6 separate regions of the Homo sapiens genome follow, and regions 1, 2, 3, 5 and 6 are each reported to be linked to region 4. The links are microRNA targets in miRTarBase. Many come from high-throughput screens and were not tested one by one. Region 4 holds a microRNA gene; each other region holds the end of a gene's coding sequence. Distances are between the middles of the regions.
What was found. Region 4 holds the annotated microRNA hsa-miR-188-3p (CUCCCACAUGCAGGGUUUGCA, at 2,380-2,400, opposite strand). A microRNA usually pairs through its seed, bases 2 to 8, with sites in the 3' UTR of a target mRNA and lowers its output. Matches are read on the target gene's strand: a 7mer-m8 pairs with bases 2 to 8, a 7mer-A1 pairs with bases 2 to 7 and ends in A, and an 8mer does both.

Region 1 (4,015 bases), 7.0 Mb from region 4:
TGGGACCAGGGAACTGAGGCCAGGGGTGAGAAGGAGGAAGAGAGACTTACTTTTTAATAGTATACCCTTTTATACTGTTTGACTTTTACCATAGGCATGTGTTATTTTTCTAAAAAACAATTTATATATTAAAACTGTAAAAAAGAATCAAAATAGATACCAGCTTTATAGCTGATAGAGCTGGATTGGAGAACATGGCTTGGACCTGAGGCTGAAATGAACTTCTATCATAAGTCTAACGACTTTGGGATTCCCCCACCCCAAGGAGAGATAGTTGGGTCTAGAAAGCAGATGTTTACCCAGCCATGTAGTGAAGGACTGCAGTCTTTCCCACATCTTGCTGTGTGGAACGAACTCAAGATCCAAGAGTGGCCTAAGCTGCCTATCCATTATAACCATTTTCTCAATCTCATCAAGTTATTCCTCCTCCCAAGCATAAGATTGAATGAGTGTAAGAGAAGATGGGTAGAACTTTCTTCCAAACATTTTTGAGAGATGCAAGTCTTTTCCTTTTCTTGAGTCAGGAGCATGGAGAGAGGAAGAGGATAGATCCCATCATACCCTTGTACATTTTCATTCTCTTAAGCCACAATGGTTAATGCTCAAGACTCTGGTCAACAAACAGGGCTGTGGCTGTCCCCTTCCAGGGAGACCAACAGTATCTTAGAAAAGTTCTGCTCCCATCAATGTAAGATTGGTGAGCAGTTGTTTTTGCCCCCAAGAGGCTCTGAAATAAGTCAAAATAGAACAGTAATTAAATTAACTCTAAGGCTACATTACACCCTAGACTGAAAATTTGATCACAATTGCAGCCCTAATTTACAATTATGTCCAGCCATATTTCCTGACATAGCTGACAACAATTATACAATGACTCCCAAAGATAGCATTAAAATACTCCAAATAATACAATATCAACAACATAATAAAAATGCCTTAGTTTGAACTATATGACCTCACCCCCACCCCATCAACTATTAAACTCCAAGGGAAAAAGGACTGCCCAAAATTAAATTTCTAATTCAAAGTCCAAAATAATTAAAGTCCAAAATTCTGCCTTTCCCAATTTCTCGTTTTTCTCATTTCAGCCATATAGATCTCACAAAGATGTCTGCCCAGATATGGGGTTCCTTCAGCAGCTGCAGCCTTGGCTGTCTTCCTCTTGACTGGGTGAAGTTCCTTCAGGACCTCAGGAGTTGAATTAATCTAACCCCACAATTGCATGTCATACATATTAAAGAGTCCAAAGGGTCAAGAAGACATAAGATTATCACAATATCAACCTCACATCAAAAAAATTAGAAAGCACACTAGTCCCCAGCCACTAGAACAGTTTTTTTAAGCAAATATATGACCCCAGGACTTAGAACATAGGGCAATACAGACCCACATTGCTGTTGTCAGTCAAACATCATAGTAGAGACTTAGTGGCATCAAAAAGCAAAAGTAGACAGATAAAACATAGGAGAAAAGAGAACATCTTCTTTGTTTCATCCTCAGCAGGATGCCAATCTGTGCCGGTAGTCTGGACTCCATGACCTGTGAACTTAAACTAATTTGGAAGATATCTTGCAGTACAGTCCCAATATGATTGTACTGCCTTGAGTCCCAGCCCCAAATGTGCAGAACTCCATGGCCTTATTAGGCTGTTACTGCTAATGGAGCTTCTGTGAGAACCTCAATGAGAAAGCTTTGGTTTTGGCCAGGTGCTTCTCTCAAAAACCATGCTTGTACTTCAACTTTTCTTTCCTAGGCTTTGGTTAACCTCCGCCAATGGCTCTTTAATAATGGAAAGCTCAAAGGCCCTTCCATTGTTTACTTTTCTGCCACAGTAGAACTCACCCTTATCTGCATATAAGTTTCTTAGGGCCAGCCAAGAAACAGGATAGTTAAAAATCCAAACACTAACAAAAATCTATTAGATTTCTATCTACCAATGCCAGCACTTAAAACATCATTAAGCCTACAGATTACCTACCACTGACTGTGTTCCAAGTCCTGCTGGGATACCATAATAGATGAGCCCACCAGTCCCTGCAAGGAAGTATAGCCTGCTTTCAGCCATTCTTGGTTCTCACAAGTGCCTTGCCCACCTCACATGCTGGGACTCTGAATTCAGTCTCCTAAGAATCAAATCTAAAACTTGAGTCTCTCTTAGCACAGCAAAGAAATCTGTATCTCAGTTTGATTCTAGGTTTCTCCTCTTTCATTTTGAGGTTCTGGACAGATCTGTCCAAACCCAGCCAAACCCAGCCTTTGCCTGTGACTGAGGGCTCTAGCTAGAGCCTGGCTTAATGCTCCTCTGGGCTGGCAAAGACCATTTGTGCTAAAGTCTGCCTGCACAGCTTCTATCAGTTAAAACCTACTCCATGTCTGCAGATACCAGCCAGAGCTATTGGAGACAAGAGAGACCCTAATGCCACTGATGACTAAAACCTTTCACTTAAGCTCCACCAGAAATCTTGATCTCTCCACTTGGAGTTTGGTCCCCAAATGCTTGTCTTCTTATCAGTTTTGCAAGGTTTCTCAGCCTATGGTTAGGTACTAAAATGCAAAGTAATTACCTTCTTAATTCTAAAACAGTTGAGCAATAGGTGAAAGAACCGGAAAGAGAGCAAAATTATTAGCCTTACTTTTAGTACAGTTAGAACTGAGAATGCAACTTGAACAAGAGACCAAAATGGGCTTCCCACTCTTTCCCAAGTTAGATTTTTGAAGCCACTTGGGGGAGATTTGAGATTGCAAAGACACTTACCCAGCCAGTCACATGGGATATCTCAGCAAGCTTCACACCTCAATGAGTGTAGAGTCCAAGTGCCAAAAAGAGTGAGGTGAGAGGTGTTCAGCTACCTTTAATCTATTAACACCACCCAAGATAAAAAAAAGTATGAGCCAATGGATGTCAGACTTTACCCTTCTCACTAATCAGTTAAATTGCGGAGAGGAACCAGTGAAAAGGTTGGACAGATGGGCAAAAGGTTTCTTCCAAAAACGTATGAGAGGGCAGAAGTTCCAATTTTTTTGCCAAGCAAAACGTGCAAAAAGGGAGAAGATGGTTCTTACAAACTGGAAAGCAATCAAGACTTTCTGTGTCTACAGATTTAGAGTCTCATATATTTGGCAAATTTCAAGATGACCTCTAAGATGTTTTTACCAAATCGTAGACATAGATATGGAAATCATCATCAAATTTGATGAAGTACACAGAGGGTTTTGCTTCTACCTGATGAATGACCATGCCAGTTCTCTTGGAGCCATCGTCTTTGGCGTATTCCACCTGTTTGCCTACCAGGCTGTCTATGACTTCTCCTGGCTCCCTCTCTGCCAGAGGAGAATCATTGGAATCTTGAAGGATGCGGAGGTCACCATCTTTATAATCATCTAAGAGCTGGTACATATATAATACAGGATCTTTCTCATAGGTAATGTAAAACCATGTGTTCATGACAGGTGCCTGAGCTAAGACCATCCCCCTCCATTCATTTTTGGAACCTTCCTCTGTCTCAAAAATATGTTCCACTGCTTTGCCAACCATTATTTCTGCCAAGTGTGTATCACTGATTCTAGATGATGCAACTCTATTAGGAAGGACTTCAAGTGATGACACTCTTTCATCTCTGTGAAGTTCCAATCCATAAACACAGTCAAATCCATCATATTTGATAAGATACAGAGAGGGATTTACAGGTACCTGATCCAGAACGGTTCCTTTCCACTGTGTTAGAGGTTCATCTCCATCTTTCCATCCGTGCTGAATTCTGCAGCCCACGATGTTCCCCCGAGGCTGGGAGGTGGGTCGGCTCCTATGCTTCTTGTGTGCAGCCTTCCTCTTTATCATGGTAACAGACACACTGCCGTGGCCAGCGCCCGTCCTGGACCGCTGCCCTGCAGCTGCCTTTCCAAACGGGGTCTTCATGCCTGCGAAGAGGAGCACAGTTGCCAGGTGGACCGAGAAAGGAAATTAACAAAATCAATGCATAACACGGAGAGCTTTTTCTCCTAATCAGCGCACCCA
Region 2 (3,000 bases), not on the chromosome of region 4:
TTCCAGTACCGCCCTTCCTGCTGGAGCTCGGCTCCCGCGTGCACTTCGCGGTGCGCTACCAAGTGGCGGGTGCCGAGTACTGGGACAACAACGACCACCGAGACTACAGCCTCACATGTCGCAACCACGCGCTGCACATGCCTCGCGGGGAGTGCGAAGAGAGCTGGATCCACTTCATCTGAGCCGCGCGGGGACCGGCCACCTGGAGCCTCCACACCTAAGCTGCGCCTCCTGTCATTTCCCTGCTGGGCTCTCACATCTATCTGGTTGTTCTTCACCACCCTCCAAGTCCTCTGACCTAATTTTCTGCTGCAAGGTCCCCTGGCAGTGGCCCATCCTGTCTTCTACTTGAAACGTCTGAGTCACTTGGTCTAAAAAGTAGCCTCAGGTGGCCAGAAGGCCGAGTTGTGTAATGAGTTGGGGCAGGGTGGTGGGGTAGGTGCATGGGAGGGTGGGCCCTCTGGGGAGGCCCAAGCAGCTTGTTTTGCAAAGGCCCAAGTCCTCCTGCTAGGAAAAGCTTTTGCATGTGTCCTGAATGTGTCTCTGTAAACATAGCTGTTATTTATTATTGTGATGTTGGGACCTTTAGCCCATAGCGGATGCCTCCTCAGGAATATTCTCGATTTAATAAGCTAAAAAAAAAAAGTTCTGTGTTTGTGCCCACAGTAAACAGAATGTACAGTGTGACCCACATCGTGGTCCCTCCAGGCATTCCTGCCCCAGGATAAGGAAAACCTGAGCCCACATCTGATTGCCAACGGCTGTAGCCTTCTAACAGTGGGAAACTATTAATAGGCAAGAAATTTCTGCTTTATCAGTCATCACACAACCATTCCTGGGCATTGAGACTGTCCTGGTTAGGCTGTGTGTCTCCTACATTAACAGCTGGGGAGGAGGGAAAAGCTTCAGACTTTTAAACTAGCAAAACAGTTATTTCTCTGCATTCACAATTCTGATTTCATGTATTTCTCTGTACATGTTTGATCATTATCAGGCCATTCTGTTTAAGTTTGAAACTAAGCATTTTAAGAAGTCTTGCCTCAGTTATTTCAGTTTTCAGGTGACTAGAGAATTTCAGGCAACAGTGCCCTTTGCAATTACCTTTTTGATGATTAAGGTGACTATTTTTATTTCTTGTTAAGCATCAGAAGATGTCAGCATTCATCTTTTGGGAGTCCAGTTACAAGGTGGAACTAGAAGGTGTTTTCAGCAATAGCCAGAGCACTGGAGGAAAAATAATTGACAAATATTTATACTTTTAAATTGTTTTGAACTGTATTTACATACATCATGTTTTATCAGGTACCCACCAACTTTATACTTTCTGCCTTCAGATAGAGTTTCTAACATTTTCTAGTTTGTCAGTTTTAAAATATAAAATTCTTTTATGTTTTTAAACCGTCAACCAAGAAGTCAAGACCACTGTCCCCTGCTGAGTTAGGCAATCACTTAAAACTCCAAAGAACTCCAGGCTGAGGAGTTCTTTTGGTGCTGAACAGTGGTCTGACAACAGGTGCTAGAATTAAGGTGTGGGAAAAAAAAAAAAACAGCCAGGAAGGACAAGATCTCCAATTTGTGAAGCTTATGATACAGCTGAAACCAGTCTGATCAATTTTATGCTACCTGTCACCAAGAAATTAACTCTAAATTTTTGAATGCTTGTTGGCATCTGTCAAATCAATACTGAAAGGATGCATTTCGGCTTTTAACCAGTTTGGTTCTGATCATTGCAACCTCTGTGCTTTTATAATTCAAAGAACAAGGATAGCTTTCTTCGGTATCTTTTAATATAAGAACACTGAATTTTGGCTTGAAATATTGTGACTAAATTGCACAATCTCTGGCTATTAGCACTGTTCACTACATTAACATGCAAGAGAGAGAGAAGCCTTGTTACATTTCCTGCTATTTAACAAACTGTCCAATTAGGTCAGCAAGCCTGTTAGGGCCTTCACTGCTACGCCCCTGGCCCCAAAACAGAGAGCAAGACAGTTGTCCAGAGAATTTAGATATGAGTTAAGAGCTGCCAGATTTATTTTAAGGCATGTAGAGAATCTCATAATCTATGTGAAAGTCACTTGCCAAAAAGGTTTTGGTTATGAAAGTGAATGTTATATATTTAATATTAAGTGAACCTCCCGTGCCTTTTAAAAAATACCAACATTATGAAATTTAAAAGCTTAAATATATTTGCCTAGTTGATAAAGAGGCTGTGGAACAACTGAAGGAGAACTTTCAGACCCTAAAACAGTTATATTACTTAGATGTTAAAATTTTCTAGTGGGCTGTGCAATTGCTGGGTTGTCCCCCCAAACATATTTTAATATGTTATTTAAAATGATTTTACCCAAGCCTAAGTATTAAAGTATATGTGCAAAAACAGTTGTGAGCCATTCTATTATGCTTCAGTATGTTTTTCTTGTGGCCTAATTACAGAAGACCAAGCTTTAGAAACTTCTTGTCTAAATCATTTCACATGCAAGTCTTATCCTTTCTACAACACTGATAAACGTAGAGCCTTGGCAAAAATAAATTTTGTCATTGTGCCTCAGCGTCAGTAGCAGAGTTGTTGTATGTGTCTTTGAGAAAAGGAAATGCAATTTTATATGCCAGGTCAGCATGAGGTATGAAGAAAGCTCTAGGGGAATACAGGGAATGTGATCATTAATGTACTTCTCTTACAACAGTTAATGACACTGTGCAGGCAGTAATGAGTGTCTGTCTGTCTGCCTTCCGGATCGTGACCCTCACCTAAGTACAAAGTCTTGCACATGGGGGAAGAAAACTTACATTTATTTTGTCTTCCCTTATTTGCTTGGCCACAGTGCTAAGTGCTTTAAATATGTGATTTCATTTAATTCTGAATGTTATGCTACCTGGTAGACAATATCCCCTTTTTCTTAGCTGAAAATAAAGCTCAGAGTGGTGTAAGTACAGCCATAGGCCACATAACATTTCACTCAACAGGGTAACTGTATATATGACGTGGATCCATGGAAT
Region 3 (3,000 bases), not on the chromosome of region 4:
TGCAGGGTCTGGTGGGGGAATCCCAGAGCCCTCCAGGACCAGGGCCCACCAGAGACCACCCTGGGTCACCAGGATGGGGGTGCCAGGCAGTTGTGCTGAGACTGGGGTGGGGGTACATTTCCTCCTGAGCAAGCGGCCCACCCAGCCCCTGGGCATCCTTTTCACTCTACAGGTGCCCAGTGGGCCGCTCTCTCACACAAGCCCCTGGGAAGGGCACAGGGCTGGGGCTCAGGGCAGGTCTCAGTTTCCTCATGGGGTGAGGGGAATGTGAACTTCCCAGGCTCTCACAACCCGCTCTCTCCCACGGAGGGGCCCTCACTGGGAGCCCTCCTCGGCCTCCTGCTTCCTTGGTGCTTCTTTGTTGCTTAAAACCATCAGAAGGCATCACAGGGTGGCAGTGACCTGAGAGTTCAGAAACGCAGCTATTTCCACCGCTGCCCCCACCTGCCACGGCCCCTGCAGTGCGGGGCTGAGACCTTGCTCCCATTTCCTGTTAAAACCCAGAGTGGTCCCCAAGAACCGCCTGTCTCCACACCCTGAAGACACACAACCCCATCCCTGCGCTAGATCTCGGGTTCATCTGGCACCGCCCGCCAGCACTTGAGGAGGGCGATTTGCATCTGAGACGTTCCAGACACGCTAGCCTTCATCATCTCCAGTCTTCCCCCAGGCTGCTGCCTGGACGTGGCCTGTGCCCTCTCCTAGTACCCAGATGGGCCCTTCAACCCAAATCCTGCCCTGCACCCACACACCTGGTTTTTTACTGGACAAAGAAACATCTTGCCTTCAATGTAAACTGCACAGAAAAAATCGCTATGCACACACAGCTCCATCTGTATGTGCTGCTCCAAGATCGCAAATCTGGAAACACTTCTCTTGGCCTTTACAGGAGACCCTTCCCATGCTCTAAGCCTTCGGTGGTGGGAGGCAGAAGGGCGGATGTGGCCAGGGCAGCTAGAGGCAGTGCCAGACCCGTCTGTGAGGAGCCAAAAGGACCCCCGGGCTGCCGGCCCACAGGCACAGGCCAGTGACAGGTCGAGGGGGCTGGGCTGTTGTTTGGGGCCCTGGAGGAACCCAGGTCACACAGGGGCCTTCTAAGGTGGCCCAGGCTACAAGGGTGTGTCTGGGCAGAGGCCAGGACCACAGCCAGATCCTTCCCTCTGCCCAAGGCCAACTCAGGATCCACAAATGGTTTATTGATTCCAAGTCGCCACACAGGGTACATTCAGCAGTCACTGCGCCTGCAGTCGGCGACAGTTTAATGTGAGGCAATTACCGCTACAGACATCTTGCTTCATCTTAAAAAAATAAAAATTTTCAAAGCATCTCACAGGCCAAAGAGCTAAGCAGGACCCTCACTCAGACATTCAAGAGTGTTTCCGAGGAAAACTCGAGGAGGAGGCAGCGTGGAACATCTTCCCATGGCCACGGCCCCGGCACAGAGCTCAGATGCCTGCGGGAAGCGGCCCCTCCACCTGCGGAAGGGAAGACGATGCCTGTTGGAGCCGCACGGAAGCATCCAGAACTCTGAGGCCTGGGGGCCGGCTGCGGTCAGTGCAAGGCTGCTGACATGGTGTGACCTCTTGCAACGGGGTGGGGGCAGAGCGTGCGGTGACAAGGGTCAGACTGGCGGCTCCCACTGCAGCCAGAAGTGAGGGAGCCAGCACACGGGGGTGGGCAGTGGACAGGACAGGATGCGGCAGGCCCCAGTACCCCCCACTCAGGAATTTGCTTCAGGCCAAAAGCCCAGGGCAGCAGGGTAAGGCGCCATCGGCCAGGACCTGCACGGCAGGGGCAGCCCCCTCCACTCCCTGGACCCGAGACCGTCTCTCCTGGAAGATGGACATCAAAACTGCATCCGGAGGTGCAGTCTGCACCCAGAAGGAAGGGGATCTCCGCCAGCAGAGCCCAAGAGTGGCGTGCAGACTGCATGTGCACAGCCTCAGCCCGGCCCCCTCAGCCATTGCCCATGAGGGCCTCCACGTTGTCTGATGGTCGCTGGCATCTGCCACGTCCCCAAGGACTCGAGGAGAACCAGAGGCTGACAAGAGCAGCATGAGCTAGCCCTGGCGATGCTCAGCCGGGCTGGACACAGCGGATCCACAAGGCGTTCAGGCCTCGCAGCCACTCCAAAGGCCCAGGAAACACCGACTGTCAGAAAACCCGGAGCACGGTGACCCTGCGTCCGCACAGCCGCCTTTCCGTGTGTACCAGGCAGAGAAAGCCCCAGCCCTCCCCCGTGCCAGACCCCTGGGTAGCAGAGGCCACCCCAGTCCAAGCAGGGTGTCTGGCCAGGGTGTCACGGGGTCGAGGGCTCCGCTCACAGGCCTTACAGGGTCTCCTGCGGTCACCCCAGCTTCAAGGTTCGCGGCTGCTGGCCCGTGTGTCCACCTGGAGCAGGTTCCTGCAGGCCGCCCAATGTGTACCTTGGGCTCAGACGGTGTTTCATAAGAGGAAATGGGGAAAACACTTGCTTTTTATGTCATCCTAAAAACATCCAAAACCCTCGGGGCCAGATCAACCCTGGCTGTCCCCGCTGAGCACAAACAGCGTCCCAGCCCCACCCCCACTGCCCACCCTGAGACACCCCACAGAGGCTGATGGAGACCCCAATGCCCATGCCCCATCTCTGCCACACCTGCAGGGGCCACAGCACCCACCCTCCCCGCGGGGAGGTCAGGGCCCACCAGTGCCCGCGGCTGGCGGTCCCACATCCTCGTCCTCCCCACTGTCAGAGGGCCTTGGTGCCAGTGGGGTGCACGGCGTGGGGCGCCGGCTTCTGGGGGTGGCGGGCGAAGGCGTAGGCCTGCCCCAGGATGGCCAGGTCCACCAGCACCTGCAGCAGGCCGCACACGGAGAACTGCAGAGGGGCACCCTTCAGCAGGAAGTAGGCCGTCTTGAAGGCGTCACCACTGGTCCACATGAGCACCATCTTGATGCTGTGGAGACACAAGCAGGCGGTCAGCGGTGGGGAGGGCGGCGACCTGGGCTCAGTCAGTG
Region 4 (4,015 bases):
AAACACAAAAACAAAACATTTTTCTGTTCTGATCATTGTAGAAGCCTAAATACAATGACCAATCCAGAGGCAAATATGGTCTTTAAATATCATGTCTGATTAAAAGAAACCAGGGCTTCTTGAAGACATGGCAGATTCCAGGCCTGGGGAAGGTATCTGCGATGAGCTTTGTACATTTTTTTCATCTCTGAAAGCGGAGAAGCTATCAGATAACTACGGAGGCATGTCAAAAGGACTGAGGAACCAATTTGAAGAAGCTCCTACTGGCTAAAGATGGGGCACTGGAGCTTCACTGAAGGCAAGAACTGCAATGGATTAAAAGTCCAAATATATTTAAATCTATGAGTTTATTATAATAGTTTTTTTAAAAAATCCTCTTTAGAGTAAGCTAGTGAACCAACTCATTATTCTGAGTACTGATAAATAAAGAGAACCAAACATTTATCCTATCTTGCCTATAAAGACGGCAACACTGGGTGATCAAATAGCAGATGAAGGGAAGTTTTTCTTTATAGAAGTATTCCAGCTAATAAATCAAGAGAATAATGGGATTAGAATATCATCATTTTGCAACCCCTAATGAAATAACGGCTCTAAGAATTGAGCATCGGTGGCAACTAACATCACAGAAAGATGATCATCAGTTATTTTGTGCCTCTTAATGGAAGTAGTTCTGCTCCCCCTTCCTCAAAATTAAGCCTGAATTTGATCAGGCTTCCAGATGCAACTATCAGTTTACAGGAAATACAAACAAGGAGAAGGAACATGTAAACTACATCACAGGGATGTGATCACAAAAATCCAGACTATGCAAAACTGTATAGGATGAATGGCCCACTTTCTTCCAACAAATAAATTATAAGGAAAGAAAAAATATAGATGGAAGGGAAAGATATAATTCAAAGGGACTTAAGATACATATCAACCAAATGCAATGCATGGACCTTATCTGGATCCTAATTTATGATATTTCTGAGACAAGTGGAAATGGGAACAACAGATATGTGATGATATTAAAAAATTGTTGGCAATTTTTTTTCTTTTTGAGATGAAGCCTCGCTCTTGTCACCCAGGCTGGAGCGCAGTGGCACGATCTTGGCTCACTGCAACCTCCGCCTCCCGGGTTCAAGCGATTCTCCTGCCTCAGCCTCCCGAGTAGCTGGGATTACAGGCACCTGCCACCAGGCCTGACTAATTTTTGTATTTTTAGTAGAGACGGGGTTTCACCATGTTGGCCAGGCTGGTCTTGAATTCCTAACCTCAGGTGATCTGCCTACCTTAGCCTCCCACAAAGTGCTGAGATTACAGGCATGAGCCCCTGTGCCTGGATGGTAATTATTTTTAAGTGTGATAATGGTATGATTTTTTTTTTAAAAGCGGCCTTAGATTTTAGAGATACATAGTAATTATCAGCTTTCCCTTTTTCCATTGTAACTTACTACTTCCCAGCCCTATGCTTCTGCCACAATGGCTCTTTGTTGTTCCTAGAACACAGTAGGCCTTTCCTGACTACCCTATTTGATATCGAAACTTCTCCACCACCATCTATGCTGTAACTACCCCCACCCACTCCTTGTCCCCTTTTCCTGCCTTATTATTCTCCAGAGCACTTATCAACAATTGGCACACTATCTATTACTTACTTATTTTGTTCACTACCTGCCTCCCCTCACTAGGGCAGGGATTCTTGTCTTTTGGTCACTGGTGTATCCCTGGTGCATAGGGGAGTACCCAACACACAGTAGCTGCTCGATAAATATTTGCTGAATGAATGAGTGGCTCACCAAATGAATCGGCTGCAAATCCTGGGTCTGGGGAGATAACAGAGAAAACTCACAATCTGACTCATATCTACATGAGTGTCTAAGAAGACAGATCTTCACACACCCTCTTGAGCAAACAAGTGTGCATATGGAAAGGCATGGCACAGTGAGTGGATTCTACTTTCTGAACCCAAAATGTGTGTGCATATTACATCTTTGCATATGGTTATGATATAGACACAATTTTCCTCACAAACTGGGTTTGTGAGAATTAGCTAGAAGACTCCCTTTTCATCATGCCCCATGTACAGGAGTCCTGAGAAGGTTCTCTCTCCTCCTCTAGGTGCCGCTAAGACAGAACCAGGTCAAAAGACCCCCCTTCCTTCTCTAGGCTGTGCCTATCCCTGAGTATGAGGGGCTGCACCATGTGCAAGAGAAAGCTAAGAGAAGTCTCCCTCTCCTGCAGGATCCATGTAAGACTGAGATGGGAGAAAGGACATGGCTGAGAGTCATTCTCCTTCCCACCACATGGGTGTGTGTTTTTCTTTTGGTGAAGGAGTGCGTATGTGTATATACACATGCACAAGAGAGCAAGGAAAGCTGAGGCTCGCCATCCTGCAAACCCTGCATGTGGGAGGGGTTTTCAGAAAGCTCACCCTCCACCATGCAAGGGATGTGAGAGAGGGAGCAGGGAAGGGCTTGCTCTCTTGGCACGACATATGGGTATGCTCTAGGAGGCAAGAGGCACTGGCCTGGGGGGTGCAAGTGGGCAGCAAGATAGCCACAGGAGTGCTGATGGGTAAACTAGGAGCAGTGGCCATGGAAGCAGGACAGTCATCCAGATGGGATGGCTGCTAACAGTGTACCCCACATACAGAGCACGTAAGAGAGGGTCTACCTCCCTTTGGTGTACCTGTCCATGTGCTCATGCCTATGCACTGGAGAGGGAAGAGAAGGCTCGCTCTTCTGCAAGCCTTGGGTGTGGGAGGGTAATTAAGATGCCAACGGTCCTACACTCAAGGCATGGAGGAGAGAAAGCAAGTCGGGAGGTCTGCTCTCCTGTATACTGTGTGCATGCGTATCCCAGATGCCTTGGACTTCTATGACTGTGCCCCAGACATGCTGTAATGAGAAGGTGTGCTTGTGTACATTCACATATGTACCTTCAGAAATGTTCACTATCTACAACATATTTGTTTTCCTTCCTTCTTTCTTTTCCTTTATTTTTATTCCTAACACCAGTATAGTATTTACATTTGCAGAGCACTGTTTTAAGTGCTTTTCACACATAGCTCATTTATTCTCATAAAATATCCATGAGGTGATCATTATCCCTATTTTACAGATGAAATAACACACATACGAGAACAGATGGTAAGAAAGCTTAGAATCTGGCATGCAGGTCATTAGAAAGAGGACTCAAAAAAGGAGGCTCAAGCTCTCAGCCACCAACCACTTTGTGTCCACACACACACCACACACACACACACACACACACACACACACACACAGAGAGAGAGAGAGAGAGACAGAGACAGAGACAGAGACAGAGAGACAGACAGACAGACAGACGCAAGAGAACTTGCACTTGTCAGCCCAGGGAAAAGCTGGATTAGTGTGGAAATAATAGAGGAAGTGAGAAGTATGAGAAGTGGCTGTGTGGTCAGATTAGACATGTATTTTGAAAGTAGAGCCAACAAGATTTGACAGCAGTTTGTATTTGGAGAATGGAGGGGAAAAAGTGTCAAAGATGAATCCAAAACCTTTAGCTTATTAAAATTCTCCATATCCTTGGCATATGCAATTGGGAAATGCTGTTTGCTGAGTTGGAGAACACAGAGGGAGGAGTAGGGCTTTTTGAGAGGGGGAGGAAAACCAGGACCTCAGCTTTGGATGTGTTAAAGTTTTGAGATACTTATTAGACATTCGGGGCAGATGTCCAGTACATAGTTGGACATAGGCATCTGGAATTCAGGAGAGAAGTCCAGGCTGGAAATACAAACACAGAAATCATCCACATAAAATGGTACTTAGAGTTGCAAGACAAGATGAGAACAGCTGAGGACTAATGAGAAGTTAAAAAAAAAAAAAGAAGTCTGAAGACTAAGCCCTATATCTCTTTAATACTTAGAATTCAGGAAGAGGAGGAGAAACCATCAAGAGACTGAGAAAGAGAGGCTTGTGAGGTAAGAAGACAACCTCATGAGTGTGGAATCCTGGAAAGCAGGTAGAGTCTCAAGGCAGAGGGAGTG
Region 5 (4,015 bases), not on the chromosome of region 4:
GGTCACGTGCAGGCCAAGCCACCATCTCCTCACCTCCTGGGTTAATCTCTACCTCCAGTCTCCCATCTTAGAACCCTAGCACAATGCAGAGTAGAAAAGACACTGACATCAGACTGTCTGGGTTCCAGTACTGCTTCTGCCATTTCCTGCTGTTTTGACTGCTCTGTGCCTGTTTCCTCACTTATAGAAAGGAAATTACAGGCTGGGTGTGGTGGCTCACGCCTGTAATCCCAGCACTTTGGGAGGCTGAGGCGGGCGGATCACAAGGTCAGGAGTTTGAGACCAGCTTGGCCAACATAGTGGAACCCTGTCTCTACTAAAAACACAAAAAATTAGCTGGGCGTGGTGTCGGGCGCCTGTAATCTCAGCTACTTGGGAGGCTGAGGCAGGAGAATTGCTTGAACACAGGAGGCGGAAGTTGCAGTTAGCCAAGATCGCGCCATTGCACTCCAGCCCAAATAACAATGCGAGACTCCATCTCGAAAAAAAAAAAAGGAAATTACAGTACCCCCTCATACCACCTGGCATTGGTGAGGTGATGATCACTGGCCTTACAATATCTTAGCTCTACCTTTGGTGCCCACTTCATTGGGTGGTTTCCAGAATACATATGAGAAGTCAACTGAAAAGAAGCTGAAGCAATCCAAATGTTGTTTTTGGTGTTTTTAATTGTTTTTGTTAATGTAAAAACAGAACCATCACAGCCGCTCAGCTCTATAACCCATCCAGCCCAAGACTGTTCTAGTGGTGAAACCAAGAGTAGACAGGTCTTCCTACCTCAGTGACCTCAAAACACAAGGACATCTCCATAGGGCATCAACATGCATCTGTCATCCAAGAATCTAAGAACTTCCTGATCCTTCCACATTTTCTATCAATAATATTGCCTTCTGAGGTTATGGATTCCAGGTCTTCTATGAAATAGGTAAAGCTTCCTTTCGCGTTCCAAGAAATATAGTTTGCGAAGGGAACTGGAAAACGTGACTCTAGGCCTCAGCCACTTCCTCTGTTACCCTGTGCAAGTTGTAGAACAATCCACGTTCTCACAGCTCCCCTTCTTCAGTTGTGGAGTTCTTCAAGGTGGACAGATCACACCTCAGGAAGTCATCCCTTGTAAGCACACTAGAATTTATCATAAAGGCAGGTCGGCTTGTTAGTTTTTCTTTGTCCCCAGCATACACTGAGCCAACAACTTAAGTCATGAATGGGTTGTTTAGGGCTCTGTCTGTCCTAAATGATTCCTAAAAGCTTCATATAGCTCATATAGTCTTATTGTCCACTGCTCTTTTGGTGTGGTATGATCCTACCTGTAAAGCTATCAAACCCCTGGGTCCTGGATGCCTCCTCCAGATTTCATACCTTCCTCAAGTTTACTAAATACTTTCTGAATTTAAGAATTTTGAGAAAGTCACCTACCAGCTAATGCAAAAACACAGCCTAATTCTGTGTGAATCCCTGTTGAGATCAGCTTTTCAGGTCAGGGAGGGAAGGTATGGGGTTTAGGGTACCCTCTCCTATCACACACATCCCCCCTGCCCACAGTACCCTGACCTACCTTGCCTGAGACTCCTAGACACTATGAGCTCCCTTCTGGCTGCCACTCAGACTGGCCAGGAAGGCTCCCAGATTGAACACAGGTGACCTGGTATAGATACACACTGTACTGTGGGCCAGAACCATGGACTACATTTTAAGCCATGTTGTGGGCCCTTCCTGCCTACAGAAAAGGACACTTGAGTGGAGTCACACTTGGGTTGCCTAATTTATTACCTTAACTAGAAACATTCTAAGTATGGGAGCCTGTTCTGGAGGATAGCTTCTAAACCAAATCTAAAACTATCTTTGCACACAAGTGTTGTGAAGAGGTAAGCAGGGGATCAGAGCTCCATCTTCTGTGACCACTTCTCCAGGGACTGCCACCTATAGGGCTCAGGTTGGTACCAACAGCCCTGCATAGTAGAGTCACTGTCAATCATCTTCCCACTTGTAAGCAGGAAGACAAAAAGTCTCATGAAATAGAAACGAAAACACTGAAGCATGGCCTTCATCGTCCTAATGCCACAAGTTTCCTGGGATGGCCAAGATACTACCTTAGCTTATTGTCCCTGCTTCACCTCCAGAGACTGGAGACAGAGGATTTTCCGGGGTTGGGGTTTCTTCTCTGACTTGGCAAATTCTTCTTTTTATCTCCAGCTGAACCACCAGTTCCTTGGGTAGCAGAGCAGAGACCTAAGCACAAACCACAGGGCTTACTAGCACATCCTTCAAGCCACTTCCTTTGCTGTTCTATTACTCTTCTTCAGCTTATCTGAACCTGCGGACTCTCTGGATACAGAAACTGCCCAAAGCATGGTGAAAAAGACAAAGGGCCCAGGTTTCACCTGGCAACCACTGCTCCCAACATCTAGAGTAAGTCAAAGAGGCTGAAAGATGACAGCCTAGTTCTCTTTGCCTTCATTATGATACTAACAAAAACCAGAAGTTTCCAGGAGTCAGCAAGCTACTCAGTATCTGACGTGGTTTCTAAGGTGGAGTTGCATGGGGAGCACTCTCCCGTGGCTGCTGAGTGAAGGCAACAGTGATGTCCAAAACAAGCCCGTCCGGCTCTGAACCACCAGTTGGCAGGCCAGGATGACTCCAGTCTTTAGCAAAGAGCTTTCCATTCTAACTCCCGAAATCCCAGACCAGATGGATGTCTCCTCCCAACTAGGCGCAGAGGGTAGCACAGACTTCCAAAAGGAAACACCTTCATTAAATGCAGCAGGCAGTCCTATATGCTGACCCTTGGGTCAAACCACAGCTTAAGCGGGGGAAGAAGTGGTTCTGATCCATGTACAGCCAGATCTGCTGAGGAGTCTGGGGTTCCCAGGAACCAGATTTGCAGATCCTGGACGATGGTGCTTCCCTTGCTGGCACCGTATCACCTAACCTAATGGTTTCTCTGAAGACAGTTGGCGGAGAGGCAAAAATGACTGTCTTAAACAGGTCTTCCGACACGTGGACAGCTCAGCAGGACCACACACCTGTCCAGGGCCCACCATGAGGCAGCCATCACCAACTTGGTAAGGAGGACATATCACACAGCATCTTCAGGGTGCTGGAGGCAGGCGCTGTGGCAGGAGAGGTAGTGAAGAAGGGTCAAAGCTTTGACAGGTTATCATCATATTCAGACCCTCTATCCCAATTATCCCAACTCCTGAGAATTTATTTTAAAGAATTAATTCTCAATAGGAAAGAAGTTGGATACACAAGGACACATGTTCTAGCTGCCAAGTGGTTAACAGAACATGGACTCTAGAGTGAGAGACTCAACTTTCCACTTTTTAAGGCAAGTGCCTATGTTCTCTGAGCCTCCTTTTCCTCGCCTGTAAGAGGTAGATGACAGCATCTACTTTCCAGGGTCACCGTAAGGATTAAATGAAATAATCCACATAAAGCTCCTGAGTTTAATCTGTGCTCAACAACAAAGGTCACCTCATATTATTACACATGAAGACAGAAAAGGAATGCAGAAAAAAGGAAATAGGTGAGTTTTTAAGGGCAACAGAACAGAAGGGAAGATTTCCGTGACTTCTGATTTTGAGGCCTTAGACATGTAGGTGTGGGGGGATGCCATCAATGTTGAGCCCTGCAGCTTAAGAATAAGGAAGCAAGTAGAGAGGGTGGCCTTTTTTACCAACGCTTTCCCCACTTTTCTAAATTTCCCCCTTGGGAAACTCCTAAGAGGTCTCTGAGAATGTAGTAAAGGAGGGAAGGCCAGGCGAGGTGGCTCATGCCTATAATCCCAACACTTTGGGAGGCCAGGCAGGAGGACTGCTTGAGCCCAGAAGTTTAAGACCAGCCTGGGCAACTTAGCCCATCTCTACAAAATTTTTTCAAACATTAGGTGAGCATAGTGCTGCATGCCTTATAGGCCCAGCTACTCGGGAGGCCGAGGCCACAGGATTGTTTGAGCCCAAGAGGTTGAGGCTGCAGTGAGCCATAATCACACCAATGAAGAGGAGTTTGACAATCA
Region 6 (3,000 bases), not on the chromosome of region 4:
GCAACCAATATTTAAATGTCCTTAATAGTAGTTAAATTTTATTAGTTCTTACAGTATTCATCTTGCCTATTTTATTCATTTAGGTATTCCTCCACCTCGTCCTGGCATGATGCGCCCACCTTTGGTGCCTCCCCTTGGACCTGCCCCCCCTGGGCTGTTCCCACCAGCTCCCTTGCCAAACCCTGGGGTTTTAAGTGCCCCACCCAACTTGATTCAGCGACCCAAGGCGGATGATACAAGTGCAGCCACCATTGAGAAGAAAGCCACAGCAACCATCAGTGCCAAGCCACAGATCACTAATCCCAAGGCAGAGATTACTCGATTTGTGCCCACTGCACTGAGAGTACGTCGGGAGAATAAAGGGGCTACTGCTGCTCCCCAAAGAAAGTCAGAGGATGATTCTGCTGTGCCTCTTGCCAAAGCAGCACCCAAATCTGGTCCTTCTGTTCCTGTCTCAGTACAAACTAAGGATGATGTCTATGAGGCTTTCATGAAAGAGATGGAAGGGCTACTGTGACAGCTTTTGATGCCAGAAAAGGCTTCTGTTCACAACAGTGGCCCATGGAGAAAGAGGCTCTTATTAAACTTAGATGAAAGAGCTGCTTCCATTGTCAGGGTATTTTCTAATTTCAGTTCAAGGAATATCCTAAAATTTAGCCTTGTTCAGAATTTACTGCACATAAAAAAGGGTATTTCATCCAGAATAGATCAGTTATTGAAGCAGTGCTGCTAACATCCATTCCCTTTCATACCACCATTTTCACCCTGTTTCTTCCCCTCCTCCAGTTCTTTGGAAATTTGTGATCGGGGGATCTTAGTTGCTTATTTGTTTTGACTCTTGTGTGCTGTGGGCACTGGAGTAGAGATTTCTGGAGAAAAAAAAACAGTTTATTTCATCTTGCCTTTTGTGTTTGAGTTATTTTTAATATTTTCCTGTAAATATTTTGTAATATTTTACTTGTAATGAAATGGATCACAATGTCATTTCCTAATACAAGGCAGGATATGTGGGAAGAATATGTACAATTATTTGATTAAAATTATTTCCCACTGACCTAAACTTTCAGTGATTTGTGGGAAAAATAAATAAATGTTCTACACCAAGATACTCTGTGTTACTGATAATATGTAAACATAATACCTATTTTATGGACAGAAAAAGTTAAATATTTAAAACTTGGGTCTTTAAGGAACTGCCTTTCTGGTACAGAATGAGAATCTTACTGAAAACATGGTAAAAACTACATTTTAAATTTTAAGGGATAAAAAGGAGTAATTATTTCCCTTTTTTAAGATTGTCATACTGGCTTTAGAGAAACTGAGAGGTGTTAAGAATAGTATGGTTTGGCTTTTATTATTTAAAAGATGTCTTACCTTCAGTGGTTACTTATTCCAGAGCTTCTTGAACTGATACGAGTTGAATGGCAAAAGTCATTTTAAACCATTTTTAAGCTATAAAAGAATCAGAAGAGGTTAGCTTTTTTTCCTTTCTGAATTGGTGGGTTTGGTGTGCTTTTATATTAAAATATGAATGAATAAGAGTGCTTAACATTAATTTGCATTTATACCATTTTCTTTACAAAGTGCTTTAATGTAAACTCATCTACCAATTTAGACTAACTCTTAGTAAGTTTAATGTTAATTTAATGACTAACTCATCTACCAATTAACCCTATAGATAACTTTTCTGGGTATTTTCCCCATTTTACATTAGAGAGTATTGAAACTTAAAAAGGACTCGTGATTTATCCAGTGATCCAAAGTGTGTATTTCATAAACACATACACACAGTGCGTGCATTGTTTAGGCATACGTTACTTTCCACAGTATCTCAAATGCCTTTTACATGAATCCCATACTATCAAAAATTGGTGATAACCTAAAATGTAGTGCAATAATACAATAAGGCATTTATTTTCTTAGAGTTGAGTTGATGGATTTTTAGATTTTTATTCAAGATCTTTTGTTTGTTTGGCTTTGCTTGGAAGATACTGATTTATTCTTTCATATTAAAGCAAATCCTGCCAAAGCACTAAATAGACCGTTTTGGGTTGGTTTTTTAGTGTAATATTAATACGGGTCCACAGGTGAATTGAGTCTGTTCAGATGTAAGGATTGAACCTTATGTTATCAATCCTTGACACCATCCTTGATAACTTACGGATATCAAGGATCAAACCATATGGTATCAATATTGTTAGTTATTCAGCATAAACAGAATTATTTCCCAATACTTGATCTGAAATATTTTTAATGGTCTTACTTGAAACTTATATTCTTTCTGGGAGTGATGTTTTTATCATTTTTCCATGGAGACAGGTTCTAACTCTGTTGCCCAGGCTGCAGTGCAGTGATGTGATCATAGCTCACTGCAGCCTGAAACTCCTGGGTTCAAGTGATCTCTGGCCTCAGCCTCCCAAGTAGTTGGAACTTCAGATACGTGCCACCACAACCAGCTAATTTATTTTTTAGAGATGAGGTCTCGCTATGTTGCCCAGTCTGGTCTCCTAGCCTCAAGTGATCTTCCCATCTCAGCCTTCAGTTGGAGATTTCTGATTTATGTTAATATAAGAAAGCTGTTGATAGTTTATCATAAAGGCATTTCCTTATATTGCTAGTATAATTTTCTGAAAATTAGTGGTGTGACAATACATCAGCTGCATCCACAGGAAAGGGGAATTAATTAGCAGTTCTGATTCTGGGTACACTTGTTATGATCATAATTTACATAATATTTTCATGAAAATGGTCAGCTCACAGCTATGAAATGTAAATGATAGAAATCTTTAATCATGTATATGGATAGACTTGTTACTATTTCCTTATCAAAGTGTCACTTTAGGGACAGCAGTTGCCCCTTTAAATTAAGGATCACCACAATAATACTCTGCCATGTCATGGAATCAGCATGAAGCCCTGGATGCTATCCAAGATTCTGTTTCAGTTCTCATTTTGTATATTCTTGTTTGTGCTCTTGATTAAAATATCTCCTTATATATA

Region 1: miRTarBase lists SPIN3 as a target of hsa-miR-188-3p. Seed matches in the 3' UTR shown: 7mer-A1 at 2,687-2,693 and 8mer at 328-335.
Region 2: miRTarBase lists PPP1R3D as a target of hsa-miR-188-3p. Seed matches in the 3' UTR shown: 7mer-A1 at 778-784 and 8mer at 1,529-1,536.
Region 3: the mRNA of SLC66A2 is a reported target of hsa-miR-188-3p. Seed matches in the 3' UTR shown: 7mer-m8 at 2,707-2,713.
Region 5: the mRNA of KANSL3 is a reported target of hsa-miR-188-3p. Seed matches in the 3' UTR shown: 7mer-A1 at 1,978-1,984.
Region 6: miRTarBase lists WBP11 as a target of hsa-miR-188-3p. Seed matches in the 3' UTR shown: 8mer at 1,007-1,014 and 8mer at 1,073-1,080.

Annotation. Positions count from the first base shown.
Region 1 is chrX:56,991,032-56,995,046 of GRCh38, forward strand. It overlaps SPIN3 (spindlin family member 3), which reads right to left. Exons shown (of 2, transcript NM_001010862.3): 2 at 1-3,918. The coding sequence starts at 3,916. The coding sequence ends at 3,140. Among named protein-coding and RNA genes, the nearest start is that of SPIN3, 2.5 kb to the right of the region's middle.
Region 2 is chr20:59,936,214-59,939,213 of GRCh38, reverse strand. It overlaps PPP1R3D (protein phosphatase 1 regulatory subunit 3D), which reads left to right. Exons shown (of 1, transcript NM_006242.4): 1 at 1-2,551. The coding sequence ends at 182. It also overlaps a transcript of FAM217B not described here. Among named protein-coding and RNA genes, the nearest start is that of PPP1R3D, 2.6 kb to the left of the region's middle.
Region 3 is chr18:79,901,245-79,904,244 of GRCh38, forward strand. SLC66A2 (solute carrier family 66 member 2) reads right to left here. Exons shown (of 6, transcript NM_025078.5): 6 at 1,176-2,939. The coding sequence ends at 2,732. Among named protein-coding and RNA genes, the nearest start is that of SLC66A2, 49 kb to the right of the region's middle. RefSeq lists an enhancer at 2,923-3,000.
Region 4 is chrX:50,001,941-50,005,955 of GRCh38, reverse strand. It overlaps MIR188 (microRNA 188), which reads right to left and starts at 2,453; the gene lies at 2,368-2,453. The region is part of intron 3 of CLCN5 (chloride voltage-gated channel 5); the gene reads right to left. It overlaps MIR532 (microRNA 532), which reads right to left and starts at 2,808; the gene lies at 2,718-2,808.
Region 5 is chr2:96,592,522-96,596,536 of GRCh38, forward strand. KANSL3 (KAT8 regulatory NSL complex subunit 3) reads right to left here. Exons shown (of 21, transcript NM_001115016.3): 21 at 651-3,110. The coding sequence ends at 3,090. Among named protein-coding and RNA genes, the nearest start is that of KANSL3, 44 kb to the right of the region's middle.
Region 6 is chr12:14,784,582-14,787,581 of GRCh38, reverse strand. It overlaps WBP11 (WW domain binding protein 11), which reads left to right. Exons shown (of 12, transcript NM_016312.3): 12 at 84-3,000. The coding sequence ends at 517. Among named protein-coding and RNA genes, the nearest start is that of H2AJ, 12 kb to the right of the region's middle.